2 separate regions of the Homo sapiens genome follow, and region 1 is linked to region 2. Evidence: fine-mapped expression QTL. A gene starts in region 2. The other region holds a variant in brackets. All regions are shown on one strand. Distances are between the middles of the regions.

The links. PIP is the estimated chance that this variant, and not a neighbour inherited with it, causes the effect.
Region 1: its variant is fine-mapped to the expression of LITATS1 in CD8 T cells (CEDAR, PIP 0.94).

What each region holds. Positions count from the first base shown.
Region 1 is chr1:37,440,996-37,449,322 of GRCh38, reverse strand. No RefSeq gene overlaps it. Among named protein-coding and RNA genes, the nearest start is that of LITATS1, 29 kb to the left of the region's middle. The variant AG/G (reference allele first, on the strand shown) is at 4,021.
Region 2 is chr1:37,470,094-37,478,420 of GRCh38, reverse strand. LITATS1 (lncRNA induced by TGF-beta and antagonizes TGF-beta signaling 1) reads left to right here and starts at 3,978. Exons shown (of 3, transcript NR_038842.1): 1 at 3,978-4,277. ZC3H12A (zinc finger CCCH-type containing 12A) reads right to left here and starts at 3,841. Exons shown (of 6, transcript NM_025079.3): 1 at 3,792-3,841; 2 at 2,482-2,962. The coding sequence starts at 2,924. RefSeq lists enhancers at 887-1,186, 2,897-2,996 and silencers at 3,647-4,106, 4,567-4,666.

The DNA.
Region 1 (8,327 bases), 29 kb after region 2:
AGAAAAACTAAACAACAGGAGCGCGGTGCGCCAGGAGCCAGGAGCAGTTCCAGCAGAGGCTGGGGAGGTGCGCGGGTGAGGCAGTTGTGGAGGCTCCCCCCACTCCCTGGCAGCTGTGTGCACCCAGGTCGGGCACTAGCACATACAGGGATGCCAGCCTCAGCTCCCCACCCAGCTCTACCCCCAGGACCCATGCCCAGGGGTTGGTGTGCACATCTACCTTGCACATTCAGATGGCAGGCGATAGTGGGGGCTGAGAATGTGGAGGGGCGGGGGAGGCTGCCTTGGAGCCCTGGGGTCCTGGACACTGTTGTCTGGAGAAGCATTAGGAAGTAGCTAAGGCCTCTGCCAGGGCCAGCATTCATTCGGATAGTTATCCTCTGACGCAATCTGAGTCCTACTCACGAGGGCCTCATCTTCATCATGGCTATGCCCCAGGGCCCAGACCGCACCAGGAGTGTGGCAAGTGCTGCATAGATGCTGGATACCTGGATGAATGACTTCATTCCGGCAAACAATACTAATGGAAATCCTGCTCTGCTGTGACTCCCTCAGGGTGGGTGTCACCCGGCATAGGGTGTGTTTGGGGTAGAAATGGTGAAGATACCACAGGAGATCTGAGGAGCAGGGGCATGCCTGGGTGGCGCTGCAGGGAGAGAATGGCTCTGTGGAACTGGCAAGGGCAGAGTGAACAGGGCTGGAGAAGAGGCAGTCCGGGCAAGGGCGGGGTGGGGAGGGAGCTGAGAAATTGAGGTGGCTGAATCTGGCCTGGAAGGAAGTAGGGGTAAGAAGATGAGTCTGGAGAGACCAGTCGGGGCTGGCTTGTGAAGAGTGGCAGGTTGCTTTGACTTCATCTCAGGGCAATGGGGACTTGCTGCAGGCTCAGAGCAAGGTGATGTGATTCCAGGTGGCTTCAGGGACACTGACTCTGGAGGCTGGTGGGAGGGAAAGGAGAGTCCCGCCAGGTGTGCTGGCATCCCTGCAGGCTGAGCTGAGTACTTCAGGCTGGTTGGTTAAGGTGAACTGTGGCTGCTGGGGGTGGGGAGGGAAGGCAGGGATGATGGTGGGGCCTTTCTCTGAGCTGGAGAGCCTGGAGGAGGAGCAGGTTGGGAAAGTGGAGGGGTTCAGTTGTGGCAACATCAGCAGCCCCCCAATATAGACCCAACTGTGCTAAGGATATAGGAAGGAGATTTCAGACTGGCAGTGACAACTAGATCCCATAAATATAGGGAGGGATATGGTGCCACAGCCCCCTAGGACTCCCGCCAGCCCCAGGAGCCTCCCAGGAATACAGGCCTCCCAGCTTCGGGGCAAAGGGCTCAGGCCACCTCTTTTGTTCCCTCCATCTCTTTCCTTCCCACACTGGCCCTTTCTGTCCCCCAGTGGGGCAGCGTTCTCCCCACCCTTTCTGTCCTCTGACCTTTCATTCTATGGGAAGGACCACTCTGGTTACAGGAACCCCCAGAGTGGCAAAAAGATGGAGGAGGCCAAGGGCATCACCTGCCCAATGTCAGGAGATTGAGCTGGTTGCCATGGCCACCGCCAGCATCCTTAGTCCTCCCCAGTCAGGCCTTCAGACCTGAAAATACACTCCCAGAGTCGTGCAGACTGTGGGCCCCGGGCTGACCTCCAGCAGGGGCATGGCCAGTGGGTGCCAGTACTAATGGAACTCCTGCTCTGCTTCGACTCCCTCGGGGTGTGTGTCACTCAGGAGGGTGTCTTTGAGGGAACATCTATGGTCAGAGGAAGAAGGGCTTCCTAATTCAGGTCTGTGCCGATCCATTCCTGTCAAAGTCCATCCAAGGTGTGTCAGACAACCCAGGTGATGGTCTCTCTGAGAGCAATCTGAGAACCTGTCTGAGTTCCTCTCTTTGAGGCCTGTTTGAAGGCCTACAGACTGTCTGGGTTGGCCCAAGGGCCAGTAGCACAAAACTAATATGGATGGCCGAAGGCCAAGGCTGGCACTGACCCTTCTCCCTTCATACAACAAAGAGTGAATCTGGCTAAGCTTGAAGTAGGTTCTTGTGGCCAGGGGGCTGGTGGAGTAGCTGGTGTTTTTCGTTTGATGATGGATTTTGTTTATTCCAGACCACAAAAAGTTGGCCAAAGCCCCCCTTCCCCCCCGACCATTTATCTGTACAGCTGGCTGGCTGACCTTGACATCTGGCAAAGGCAAAACACTTCTTGAAGACCTCACTGCCTGCCCACACCTCCCTGGGGAAAGAGACACAGTTGTGCCCTGTCTGAAATGGGCTTTTAAGTACGAATAGGGAATTCACCTGGTGAACAAGGTCAGGAAGAACAGTATTGACCGAGTGATACCAGTGAAGACACAGAAATTCAAAACAGTTCTCTGTGGGCCAAGAGAACAACTACATCAGTTTTTCTGGAGTCCAGAACTTGCAAGAGCTTGACATTCGAGTATCACATGAAATCACGTAAGAGAAAGGGTCTTACAAACTAGCATACTGCACAAAATGAGGGCTCACTGTTACCGCCCATCTCTCCTGTTTGTTATGGGAACCAAGTGAGTCGAGATGTGTGAAGTTGCGTTGTAAGCTGGAAGAGTGTTTATGAAAATGTTAATTAATACATTTAGAGAGTAGGTAGATTAAGTGTGAGAATGTGGAGATAGAACAGACAATTAAAATATCTGCTAATTTTTCTCTTGAATTCACATTTTAGGAAATGTTTATAAACTGAGAATTCTAATTACTTTTCTCCTTCACACCTCTTTTCAGATGAATACATTGTAAGAGAATTATAGTATCTGTTAAAAATATTGCCAATCCCAGTGTATCAGTTGGGACTCCTTACAGGGAAAGGAACAGGAGATCCACTGCAACTTGGATTAACCAGTAAAAGGAATGTGTGGTCCGTGTGATTTGGAAGTCTGGGGGTGTATTAGTCTTTTTTCACACTGCTGTAAAGATACTACCTGAGACTGGGTAATTTATAAACAAAAGAGGTTTAATTGACTTACAGTTCTGCATGGCTGGGGAGGCCTCAGGAGACTTACAATCATGGCGGAAGGTGAAGGAGAAGCAAGTACCCTTTTCACAAGATGGCAGGAGGGGGAAGGAGAGAGAGAGAGGAGAGAGGGAAGAGGGGAGGGAGAGAGAGAGGGAGAGAGACAGGGAGGTAAAGAGAAGGAGAGGCAGAGGGAGAGAGAGTGGGAGGGATCAAGGGGGAGAGAGGGAGAGAGATGGGGAGACTGGGAGAGTGGGAGAGTGGGAGACAGAGTGAGAGAGAGAATGAGCAGGGGAAACTGCCACTTTTAAACCATCAGATCTGGTGAGAACTCCCTCACTATCATGAGAACAGCATGGGGGAAACCACCCCTGTAATCCAATCACCTCCCACCAGTTCGTAATTGACACACAGGGATTACAATTAGAAACGAATTTTGGAGGCGGGGCGCGGTGGCTCACGCCTGTAATCCCAGCACTTTGGGAGGCTGAGGCGGGTGAATTACGAGGTCAGGAATTCGAGACCAGCCTGGCCAACATAGTGAAACCCCGTCTCTACTAAAAATACAAAAAAATTAGCCAGGTGTGGTGGCACATGCCTGTAGTCCCAGCTACTCGGGAGGCTGAGGCGGGATAATTGTGTGAACCTGGGAGGCAGAGGTTGCAGTGAGCTGAGATCATGCCTTTGCACTCCAGCCTGGGTGACAGAGTGACACTCTGTCTCAAAAAAAAAAAAAAAAAAGAAGAGCCGGGCGTGGTAGCTCACGCCTGTAATCCCAGCACTTTGGGAGGCTGAGGTGGGTGGATCACTTGAGGTCAGGAGTTCAAGACCAGCCTGGCCACCATGGTGAAATGCCACCTCTATTAAAAATACAAAAATTAGCCAGGTGTGGTGGCGTATGCCTGTAATCCCAGCTACTTGGGGGGCTGAGGCAGGAGAATCACCTGAACCAGGGAGGCAGAGGTTGTAGTGAGCTGAGATTATGCCATTGCACTCCAGCCTGGACAATAAGAGGGAAACTCTGTCTCAAAAAAAAAAAAAAAAAAAAAA[AG/G]TTTTGGGTGGGGACACGGCCAAACCATATCAATAGGTAAGACGAACTTCAAAGGGGATTTGATCCAGAGTTTGTTACTCAGGCTCAGGCTTGCTTCTCCTAGGCTTTTCCCTCTAAATCCTGGGAGAGAGAGAGAGGCTTCTCCTTGGCCAAAAATTCAGCACAATTCCTGAGCTGCACTTCTGATGGGTCTAACTTGGGTCAGGAGCGGGGGGAATGCCAGGCCTTAGTTCTGCATAAAGTGCCCATCACTGAAAGAATCACTGTGGTACCAGAGGCAGGTGAAATGGGTGCTGGGAGCCCACCAGGATGCCTACTATTCCTGGTTGCTCAGGTAGACCACTGGGTTTCAGATGTGCCAACCTGGAGTTGTGTTCAATTTCCTGCCCTCATTGCTGATTCATCATCTAGAATTTCTCTTCTCTGTAGTTCTTCCTTTGCAGCCATGATCCTGGGCCAGGCCTTGTCCCATCAATCCACACTCAAACTACTACCATAGTTTTTTTTTTTTTTTTAGCTACTTAGTCACTAGCCTCTTTCCTTGCCAATACATCTTCTTCCCCTATAGCCGCTCAAAAGCTTAACACATTTAATCACAGCAAAGAACACACATCACAGCTGATGTGATAAGACAAAAAACACAATTTCAAAATTTATGGGAAAACTGTCATCATGTGCCAGAGACACAATTTTATAACTAGAAAACTCAATGAAAGTAACTAAAAACAATTAATTATAGCAAATGAAAAGTTTAGGCCAGGCCTGGTGGCTCATGCCTGTAATCCCAGCACTTTGGGAGGCCCAGGTGAGAGGATCATTTGAGGCCAGGAGTTAGAGGCCAGCCTGGGCAACACGGTGAGACCCCATCTCTATAAAAATGAAAAGAAGTTAGCTGGGCATGGTGGTGCATATTATTCAGGAGGTTGAGGTGGGAGGATCACTTGAGGCCAGGAGTTGGAGACCAGCCTGGGTCACAGAGCAAGACTGTCTCTATTTTTTTTTTAATTAATTTTTTTTTTACACTGCAGGAAGAGACCCTGTCTCTTAAAAAAAAAAGTTTAGTAAGATGTCAGATACAAAATAATAAAAATTTAAAGCTTTCTTCTTCTTCTTTTTTTTTTGCAATGGCACGATCTCGGCTCACTGCAACCTCTGCCTCCTGGGTTCAAGCGATTCTCCTGCCTCAGCCTCCTGAGTAGCTGGGATTACAGGTGCGCACCACCATGCCTGGCTAATTTTTGTATTTTTAGTAGAGATGGGGTTTCACCATGCTGGTCAGGCTGGTCTCGATCTCCTGACCTCATGATCCACCCGTCTTGGCCTCCCAAAGCGCTGGGATTACAGGCGTGAGCCACTGTGCCCCAGCCAGCTTTTTTCTATAATGGCAATAATCAGTTTTAAAATATTGTAGCAGGTTATCTGAATAAGAGGGTCTTTTTTTTTTTTCCGACCTAATGAAGCTCAGTTGGGGATAGTTGTTTTCTAGAAATCATGTTAATTTTAGGGGTGTAGACACATGTGAACTTGAAGCACACCCCTTATTTTATTTCATTTTTAAGTTTTCTGTTTTTGTTTTTGTTTTGAGACAGCCTTGCTCTGTCACCCAGCATGGAATGCAGTGGTGAGATCATAGCTCTCTGCAGCCTCAAGCTTCTGGGTTCAAATGATCCTTCCACCTTGCCCTCCCAACTAGCTGGGACTACAGGCATGACCCACTACACCTGACTAATTTATTTATTTAGTTTTGTAGAGATGGTGGTCTCACCATATTGCCCAGGCTGATCTCAAACTCCTGGTCTCATGGGATCTTCCCACCTTGGCCTCCCAAGGTGCTGAAATTACAGGCATGAGCCACGGTACCCAACCTCTTCTCCTCTCATTTTAATAAAATCACTGGGACAGGTCCTTTATAGGAATAAGGCAAACACCACCTGCTTGTCTGGGAAGAGCCCTGGAAGAACTGTAAGTGGTGGAATGCAAACTGAGATGTTAAATATTCTGTTTCATAATGACTGCGTTTCAAGCAGAGTTTGCTATGGATGTGACCTGGTTTTATGGCCTGGGTGGGAGCAGAGAAGAACAGGGATTTTCAGGTGTGGGGAGGCCTGAGGAAGCTTTCATTGGTGGCTGTGCTCTCCCATACAATAGGGACCCTGAGAATGGGTGTACAGTCCAGGGTCCCAAGGGAACACTGTGTAGCTGTCAGTGTAGCCGTGTAGGAACCCTGACTGCAGCAAATGAAGACAGAAGGAGGAAAGACAGTGGTGGGGGTGGGGGAGCAGGGAGACAGAGAGAGAGACAGACAGACAGACAGACAGACACACAGAAACAGAGACAGACATACATACACACACAGAGACAGAGAAAGAGACAGAGAGAGAAAAAGAGGCAGACAGAAAGAGACAGGCAGAGAGAGACACACACACAGAGAGACAGAGAGACAGACAGACACACACACACACACAGAGACAGACAGACACACACAGAGACAGAGAGAGACAGAAAAAGACAGAGACAGACACAGAGAGACACAGAGACAGAGACACCGACAAACACAGAGAGACAGACAGACACGGAGAAAGAGAGAGAGAGACAGAGAGAGACAGAGAAAGAGACAGACAGAAATAGAAACACAGAGAGAGGGAGAGACAGAGAGAGACAGACAGAGACAGACACAGAGAAAGAGAGAGAGATAGGGAGAGAGAGAAAGACTGACAGACAGGGAGAGACACACACACACAGAGACAGAGAGAGGGAGAGTGGAGGGAGAGAGAGAGAGAGAGGGAGAGTGGAGGGAGAGAGAGAGACAGAGAGAGGGAGAGTGGAGGGAGAGAGAGAGACGGAGAGTGGAGGGAGAGAGAGAGACAGAGAGAGAGAGAGTGGAGGGAGAGAGAGAGACAGAGAGAGGGAGAGTGGAGGGAGAGAGAGAGAGAGAGACAGAGAGAGGGAGAGCGGAGGGGATGCAAGAGAAGCCGGCAGGAGAAGGAGCGGTGAGACAGTGAGTTGAGAAGTGGCCCCAGGACTGTGTGTGGAACATACAAGCACCTGTCTGGATCCCCCAGATGCCAAAGTATAATTCTCAAAATATTAAAACCATAATTCTCATGCAATACACAGTGAGCACCATCAAAATATTATTTAGCTCAATGAGAGAATCTTTAAACAAGGTGGTTCAAAGAAGAATATGAGAAACTCGCATGAAAAATGATGATGGAATAAGATACTAAATTAGATATGAAATTGGTTGATAGCCTATAGGACATTAAAACCATAACCTTTTGGGATTATTTTCTCTAGTGGATGGAAATCACTTGCCCCTTACCAGTTTTCTACAAGTAAACATCTAATTTTACAGAGCCTGGGCCCTAAGCAATAGTCAAATAGACTAGTCAAATAGAATGTCGAACATTCTCGTTACTCTAGACAGGCTTGTTGGCCAATGCTTGGGGCGTGGAGAGGAATTAAACCACATTTTTGCCAGTTTTAGAATCTCATGGAGAAATAGACCATGTTTGGTTTGGGTTTTGGGGGTTCAAAGTCATTTTAAATGGACTCTGAGAAGAAATATGAGCCACACTTGGATCCCAACATGGTGAGGTGGGGCACAGAGAAGCAGCGTCACGTGGTACCCGTGGCCTGGGGACAACTTGTGGGGGTGAGGAGATGGCCTGTACCCACCGCTATGCCGGGCTTCGAAGCACCTCTCCTTAGACTTCAGAGTCGCATCAAGCTTTTCGTTTTCTGGAGGGTTTTTTTTTCTTTTAAAACTTTTATTTGTATTTATTTATTTATCTATTTACTTTTTGAGACAGGGTCTCACCCTGTCACCCAGGCTGGAGTGCAGAGGCATGATCACGGCTCACTGCAGCCTCGATCTCCTGGGCGCAGGTGATCCTCCCACCTCAGCCCCCTCAGTAGATGGGACTATAGGAAGGCACCACCACACATTTTTCTATTTTTATTAGAGATGGGGTTTCACTATGTTGCCCAGACTAGTGCTTTTTTTTAAAATTAAAAATTTAAAATTGTGTTAAAATATACAAAACAAAATCGATCGTTTCAATATTATTTTATTTATTTATTTAGACAGAGTCTCGCTCTGTTGCCTGGGCTGCAGCAGCCTTGAACTCCTGGGCTCAAGTGATCCTCCCACCTCAGCCTCCTGAATACCTGAGACTACAGTTGTGCACCACCACACCCAGCTAATTTTTTGATTTTTTTTATTTTTGATGGAGATGGGGTTATGTTGCAGTGTTCTCAAGCTGGTCTCAAACTCCCAGGCTCAAGTGATCCTCCTGCTTTGGCC
Region 2 (8,327 bases):
TGCCTTCCTGTCTCTAACAGAAGATCCAGAATTTATTTGGGAGAACAAAGCTCCCAAAATTGAGTTTGAACAAAGTGTGTTATGAGAGACAGGTGGCGAACGGGAGAAACAATGCTGCTGGCAAACTCCTGCTCTTCCTTCAGAACCCTTGTGAGATGTCACTGCCTCTGAGAAGCCTTCCCTGACCTGCCACAATAGGTCAGGTCCCTGGTCTGTGTCTTCACAATGCCCAGTGCTTCCCCCATCACATCACCCCCCTTCCTTGGGCCTTCTGGCCTGCCTCTCAAAACCATGGCAGCTGGGTCATCCCAGGCCTGGCTCCTTGTCTCAGGTATGCAGTGTGCGCATGTATCCGCCCACCTGCCTCCCTCCGGGCACATGATCCTAGGCTAGTATCTTGGAGCACTGGGAACTAATGGGATGCCAGGGCTCTCAGGGCAGTGCACTGCCTGTGGGCACTGAAAATCTTGGCTGGGACAAGTCGGTTCTCAGCAGCCCTAGCACCTGAATATTCCCTCAGCAGATGGAAAAACTGATCAGTGGGCGCTATCAGAGCCCTCCTCCTGGTAGAGCACATGAGGCCTGGAGTGCCCCCCTACAGCTAGCTTTAGTCTCTTTCACTGCACTGGAGGAAGCGCTGCTGGCACAGGAAAACCAGACATCCCTGCCCCCATTCCAGTTCTCTTTGCCTGTAAGGTCAGGGTCCCCCAGCCGGGCTAAGCAGACACTGATAGGATGTGTGTGTAGAAGACTCCAGCTAGGCTGCTCCTGCCCCAGGACAGAAGGCAGGGCTGGGCCAGCCTCCCCAGGTGAAAAGATATGCCTGGGCTGGGCCTGGCGAGTGGAAAAAAATTCCCTTAGAAGGAAACAGAGGTGAATTTCCCCATGATTTGCATATGATGGGGGGGCTAGCCCGCCTGCCCCTGGGGAGGGGGGGTGGCCGGGCAGGAACCGAGTAGCAGCTGAGACAGGAAGTTTGAGGCTGGAATTCCCCTCCTGCCACTACCCCAGCTCAGAAACCCCCGAGGTGGGTGCGTGGCTCTGCTTCTCAGGAGCAGGCTCCTCTGAGCACCCCTCATCACAGCCCCTCCTCCCATGTCCCTCCTCCTTCTGGATACAAACACATACTGCATATGGCTGCTCCCAGGGCTCAGCCGCTCCTGGCCCATACCTCCAGAGGAAGGAGTCACACAGATCCAACCTAGCTCCTAGCCCAGCTACATGAGGCTGGACACTGAGAGGGACCCCTTCTAATCTCGAAGCATGGGCTGTGACCTGCTGCCTCTTGGCATGGAAACTGGATTTTCTCAGCCTCCCATCCAGGCTCAGCCCAAGTCAGAGAGAGGAAGACTGGCCTGAAGGTGACAGAAGGAGGGAAGAGCACTCAGCTGCATGCCTGCTGAGCTGGGCCAGGGCCAGCTGGACAGTGAACTTGTCCCACAGGGGCCACAAATTAGGGAGGGCAGAGGCTGATGTCATGCCAGCCTTGGGCAGCCCACCTAGGAGCTCCCTCAGGGCAGCCAGAAAATCATCCCTTCTCAACCCTGTGTCTGGGGTCTCCCCGTCCATGCCAACAGGAACTTTTCCCTGTGAGCCATCCACCCAGCACTGACTCATCAGCCTGCCTTGGAGGGAACTGGGAAAAAAGTGGGGCCAGAGGGTGGAGCCTGGATTGACGGGAGAAGTCTGGGTTTCCCAAGGTCAGCAGCAGCCCTGGCTTCCCTCTCTGCCCCTACCTCCCCACCCCATTCCTGTGCTGGGGGATGGGGGTGGGAGTCACTGGGGGCTGAGTCCTGGCTCTGGCCCCGGGGAACCTCCAGAGACTGGTCCAGCCCAGGCTGCTTCAGCTGAGTCAGTAGGGATCCAAGTTGCAGCTCGCCTGAGGCCAGAGCATCAGGCCACCTGCCCACAACCCATGTAAAGCTGGACCCAGCCTTGAGGTCACTCTTGGACACAGTCACTGGACCTGTTTTCGTGGGAGCCCAGGTCTGAGACAAGAAGGCCTCAGAAGCCCAGCCCCTGAAATAACAACAACAACTGCTACTACCACTGCCTACTACCACTACTATGGTTCCTGAACGCTTGCTCCTCTCCGGGATCCGCACACTCCCTCCTCACAACACCCACCTGAGATCAGGTTCCGAGGGGTGAGTGAGCAGCTGCCCACGGGCTGGTCCCCTTTACAGCCCTGCCTCACATTACAGGAGAGGAGTGGAGACACAGTGCTGGCCTCAGGGAGGGACCCACAGCATAAGGTAAGCTCTGCGGACAGAGGGACCTGGGCTGGAACCCTGCCTCTGTCACTTACCAGTAGCGCGACCCTAGCCTCATAAAAGGCTTTCCCTCCCTCTAGACCAGTCCCTAAGAAGGAAGTCACTTCTTCCAGCCCACCAGAGCTGCAGAGACAGTCATCCTTCCATGTGTCCTGGCCACAGGAGAGATGCGAACCTCATGTGTCCTGGCCACAGAAGTGACACTTACCTCATGGCCACGTTGCTCCCATCGATGACCACTGGTCTCAGGTCGCTGCCCTCCTTTTCCTCTTCTGGGAGTGGAGGCTCCAGGTTGGGAGCCTTAGGGGTGCCACCACCCCGCGGGACTAGAGGGAGCTGAGGGCAGGGGTCCGGTGAGGTCTGGCGCTCCCGCTCGGTGGCTGTCCCGTGTTTCACCAGCTCACCCAGCACCGTGTTGGTGTCTGCCTGGACGCCCAGCTTCTGCAGGACGCTGTGGATCTCCGTGGATGAATAGCCCAGCTTCCGGAAGAAGTCCACCTTCATCTGCAGTTCCAGGGCCGAGGCCTCCTCAGCGGCCAGCTCTTGACCCGGCCTTGGGGTGCCCTGACGGCTGTGGCTGTCCTCAAATTCCCACAGACTCATGGTGGGGCTGGCTTCCAGGACAGGCTTCTCTCCACAGGGGCCACTCATAGCTCAGACTCCTGGAAGGCCCCGCGCCACAGCTCCTACTGAACAACCAACAGGGTTAGGGACGGTGAATAGCGCTCTCTCCTAACCTCCCTCCCAAAACCACATCCAGCAGGATGAGGGATTGGTGGCACTACACACTGCATCGTGTTATTAGTTCAGGTTGTCCTCTCAAAAGCTCTCCCAGCTAGGCATTCCCATTCCCATTCTATAAAGGGAGAAACTGAGGCACAGACATTAAAAACGTGCTCAAGGTCATCCAGCTGTTAGCTGGTGGCTCGAAGATCGGAACTTAGTCTGAACTAAGACTGGAACTACCCCAGCTGTAAAGCCTCGAACCCCCACGCCAACCCAGGGGACCCAGAAGGCAGGGACGGGGCTCTCAGATGGAATCCTGGGGCTGGAAGTGCGTTGCGGGGCCCAAGGCTTCCCCACTGAGGCCACCACTTTCGCCCACCCGTCCGGCACTCAGAGCTCAGGCCCAGGCAGCGCAAGGCCCATGGCCGGACTCCCGGAGCCGGGGAGGGCAAGTTTCTGGGGTGACCCGTGGGGAGAAAAGTTGCTGGAAAACTTTGGTTGGCTGCCGGGAGCTGGTGACGCCGAGGCTGTCCCGGCCCGAGACCCGCGCTTGCTCGGCCCGCGATCCCGATCAGGAACCTGGTGCTCTTCCCCGGCTCTCCCAACTTGGGCAAAGTTGGAGGGGTCCTGAGGCCCGGCGGGCCGGGGAACAGGACCCCGACCCTTCCGTCCCCTCCCCTCTCCACCCCTCCCGTCCCCTCCCGTCCCCTCCCCTCGGCTCGGCTCGGACCCCGCCGGAGCGCTCCCTGCCGCTTCCCCGCCGAGGCCCGCACCCTCCCCGCCGCGCCTCACCCCGCCATGCGCCAGCGGCGGCCGGCGGCGTCTCCATGGGGCCGAGTCCTGGGGGTAAGGACGGCGGCGCCTTTATATGGGGCGGCGCGCGGGCAGGTGGTGGTGAGGCACTGACGCGGAAGCGGGCAAGGGGCGGGGCCGTCCCGGGAGACCGCCCCGGGGGCGGGGCTGCCTCGCCCCTTCCTGCTCCGCTCCTCGCGTCGCGGCCCCGCCCCCGCGGCCGCTGCGCGCCGGACGGGGCCCAAGCGGGGGTCGGAGCCTCAAGGCTGCGGCGGCGACGAGCTCCGAGCGGGACACTGAACGGCCCGTATGCGCAAGATAAGCACGGACTGAATCAGGTACACGCACCTGCCGGGGACGCACTGACCGAGGTGCGGACGGCGGTACCAGGACAGGTAAAGCCGCGAACACTCGGACCTAAGAACTTGACAGGTACACCCTGCCTGATGAAGCTACGTACGGCCAGGTGCGCATCGAGTGAATCAGGTACGCGGAGGTTGGTCCACGCACCTTGGAGGCAGGTCCATGGTTATAGACAGGTACATCCAGACAGGCACTTTTCAGATGGAGTCAGGCCCCCTCAAGACACACTGTGCTTAAAGCCGTCACACAGAGGTTGGCCACCCCCGGGGCCAGGTACACTTTTCCTGAAATCTGTACTTTACTAGGACCAAAAGGCAGGTTCAGTCAGCAGATGCACAATGACCGAGGCAGAAAACCAGGCAAAAGAGGGCCATTTACCCCAATCACCACATGAATACTGTCCACACAAGAATACTGTCACCCATACCGCAGAACTCACTGAGCGCCCCCACTGGAGGAGCACCCTTGCTCCATGAAGATGCTTTTAGTTTCCCAGGTCAGACCTGATCCCTCGCATGAGCACAGCACTTTACAGGCTTACACTCACGGGCTTACAGACAGAGGTCATTATGCTGATGTTACCCTTGAGAAATTCTGCAAAGGCTAAACTGCCCCAGCTGGAAAGACTCGAACCAGGATGGAGAGCTCCTATTCTAGTGCTCCTATTATTTGCCATTTTTGTGAACCACGAGTGACTGAGGGCAGAGGGGAGCCTGGCTTCCTATGTGTGTGTGTGTGTGTGCGTGCGTGTGTGTGAGTGAGAGAGAGAGAGAGAAAACACAGAGCCCACACGCTGGAGGACAGAGCCACATGCCACCAGTGCTTACTATGTGCCAGTCCTTTGTTACATTCTCTCTACCTCATCATAGGCATGTATCCTATAAGTGCTAGTGTTATAATAAATACTTGTTTATTGTAAAAGACACCATAGACACAACTGTACATGTACAGCTTAAAGAATAATAGTAATAATAAAAAAGCCATGTATCCATCACCTAACTTAAAAAATAGACCAGTGCCAGTACCTTGAGGCCCTCTGGGTGCCCCCATCACAGCCTCCTGCCCACATCCTGAAGAACTAGTTTCCTGAACTTTAATTGTGCTAGTCATTCTCTTGCTTTTTCTTGTAGTTTTACCACCTCTGTATGCATCCCTAAGTGGGATATTGTATAGTTTTGCTATTTTTTACTTTGTGTAAACGGAGTCATTCCATAATTATGTGACTTCCTTTTTCATACAGCATTATATTTTTAAAAATCCATTTTGATTGCCTGCATACCTGTAATTTATTTTACTACTGAATAGTGTCCCATTTTATGAATATACCACTGGTTACTTATTCAGTCACCTGCTGTTGGATGTTGTTTCTAGGATTTTTTTTCTATTACAAAGACTGTGCTTTGGATATTCTTGTATGTATCTTAATGAAATTGTACAGTGGAGGAAATGGATGTTCAGAGATTCAGAAAGGTGAAGTCACCTGCTCAGGCTCTGGGGGCTGGTGGAGCTGGAACTCATGTAGCTCTCTCCAAGGCAGTCCATCTCCCCATCCACACCTGCTTGTTCGGGAGGCCACCAAAGACCCCAGGGAGGCAGGCGTGTACGTCTCTATCTGGACCCTGAGGCTGTTCCTCTGGGCTTGCTTGCTCTTACCTAGCGGTGTTCCTGCTTTGTTGCCTGGTCATCTTTGAAGACCCCAAAGTGTCCCCTTCTCTGCTCCCCAGGCACAGCAGCTCCAGGGGCTTGGCAACCCAAGGAGAGAGGAAACACAAGGCCCCCTGCTGCATGCCAGCTCACATCCCATGCTGGGCACCTCACATGCTTGCTGTCACTCCAGCTGAGTGCGGTGCCGGCGGCACCCCTAACCTCACAACAGTCCCTTTTACAGATGAGAAGAGCTCAGTTATGTTAAGCATTTATTCGCTATAGCAACTACCTTTAAGATAGTAAAAACATTAAGTGATGTGTCCAGGTTAATAATGATAATGACAATACTAATCAATCATAGAGATAATGCCTCCCATTTATAGAGTGCTCACTGGGTGGCAGGCACCAGCTAGCGCCTTGCAGACACTTTCGGGCCTCTGCTCTGCTTCTTCCTTGGCTTGGAGTGCCCTTCCCTCTCTCCCACCCAGCTGCTTCCTAGCCAGTTCCATTCATCTTTTGGATGATGTCACCTCCTCTGTGAGGCCAGCCAAGACTCCTTTGATGCTGGTTGTACCCTCCTAAGTGTCCCCACAACACCCTGCCTATGTCCCAACGTGTTAGATTGTCTTTGCCAGCCTGAGACCTCCTCTGGAGCTGCAACAAGACCAGACTCTGCTCCTGCTCCCAGACCCTCTGCTGCCCAGCCCTGTGCCAGTAGGAGCCAGCAGGACTAGGCGATGAGTCATGCTGCTCCCTGCCCTCCCAGAGAGAGCCACAGTCTCGCTGTCTTCCGGCTCATGCTACTTCCCAAGAAGCCGACTCTCCTCTACAGAACCCACGGCTTCTTTGGGGAACCCCTGCTCCGTTTACAGCTGGATTTTGCAAACTTTGGCCCTAATCCCCAGGAGTTCTCTGAAGCCGAGCCCACACAAACCCCTCTGCCTCTCGTATGCCTGTCTTGGCAGCTGGGCTGGCTAATTTCCTTCTTGGAGCCTGCCTGGCCTCCCACCATCTATCTGCCTGTGCCCAGCCAGCGTAGGTGGGGTCTGCAAAGCTTGTGGACTGGTCACTGCCTGAGGGTGGTGGGGGGTTGGGAGATGAGGTTGGAGAGGGAAAGGTCCCAGGAATGACCTTGGCTTTCAGTTGCTTCACTGGGCAGCTCAGCCTGGGGAGGACCCGGGAACTGGGCTACCTCTGTAGAAAGGCTGGGCAGGCTGCCCTCAAGCCTTAAGGGAGTGGCTGCTGAGGTGATGTTTAAATTCAACAAGGCCTCCTAGAAGTGAAGAAAGGACCAGATCCCTCCCATGTTTGAGACTCCTGGTATATTTCTTTTTATTTTTTATTTTCGAGATGGAGTCTGGCTCTGTCGCCCAGGCTGGAGTGCAGTGGCGCGATCTCAGCTCACTGCAAGCTCCGCCTCCCAGGTTCATGCCATTCTCCTGCCTCAGCCTCCCGAGTAGCTGGGACTACCAGTAGCTGGGACTACAGGTGCCTGCCAACACACCTGGATAATTTTTTTGTGTTTTTAGTAGAAACGGGGTTTCACCGTGTTAGCCAGGATGGTCTCGATCTCTTGACCTCGTGATCCGCCCGCCTTGGCCTCCCAAAGTGCTGGGATTACAGGCATGAGCCACTGCTCCCGGCCAGACTCCTGGTATATTTCAAAAAGACATGTCACAGCAGGGCTACAAAAATCAATGTATGTTTTAAACGGTAACTGAACAAATTAACTCTTTTTTTTTTAAATCATGCATTCAAATGCGGTGCAATATATTTGGACTATTGACAAGATAATTGGAGAACTTGTATTAAAAATACATTATTTCCTTGGAGAGATGGCTGATTTTAGGGCTGGGACAGGGAAAGGATGAGCCGGCAGTGTGCTGTGGTGCCAGGGATTTAGGAAGCGCTCAAAACACAAAAGGATGGGAGTGCGTCAAAGGGATCCAGGAGCCAGAAGAGCTCCCTATGGCCAAAGCTGGAGCAACTGAGCAAGGGAATAAATAATAGGATAATATTGAATTATAACCTAAAGTATAAAATAAATATTTATACTGATATAAATAATTTTTTTGTTTTCAGAGCCAGGGTCTTGCTCTGTCGCCCAGGCTTGAGTGCAGTGCCGTGATCATAGCTCACTGTAACCTTGAACTCCTGGGCTTAAACGATCCTCCTGCTTCAGCCTCCTGAGTAGCTAGGACTACAGTTGTGCACCACCACGCCTGGCAAATTAAAAAAATTTTTTTTGTAGAGATGGGGATCTCGCTATGTTGCCCAAGCTGGTCTTGAACTCCTGGCCGGAAATAGTCCTCCACCTTGGTCCCCCAAAGTGCTGGGATTAAAGGCATGAGCCACCATACCCAGCCCTGATATAAATAAATTGTTGAATCAATAACCTACTGGGGGAGAAGAGGCAAGTCTTCCTTACAGAAGAATTTCCAATAATGAATGCAGATTGTTTCTCCTCTAGGAGGTGGAGCTTAATTATTCCTTTCCCTTCCCTTTCCTGTACACTGGACTCAGGAC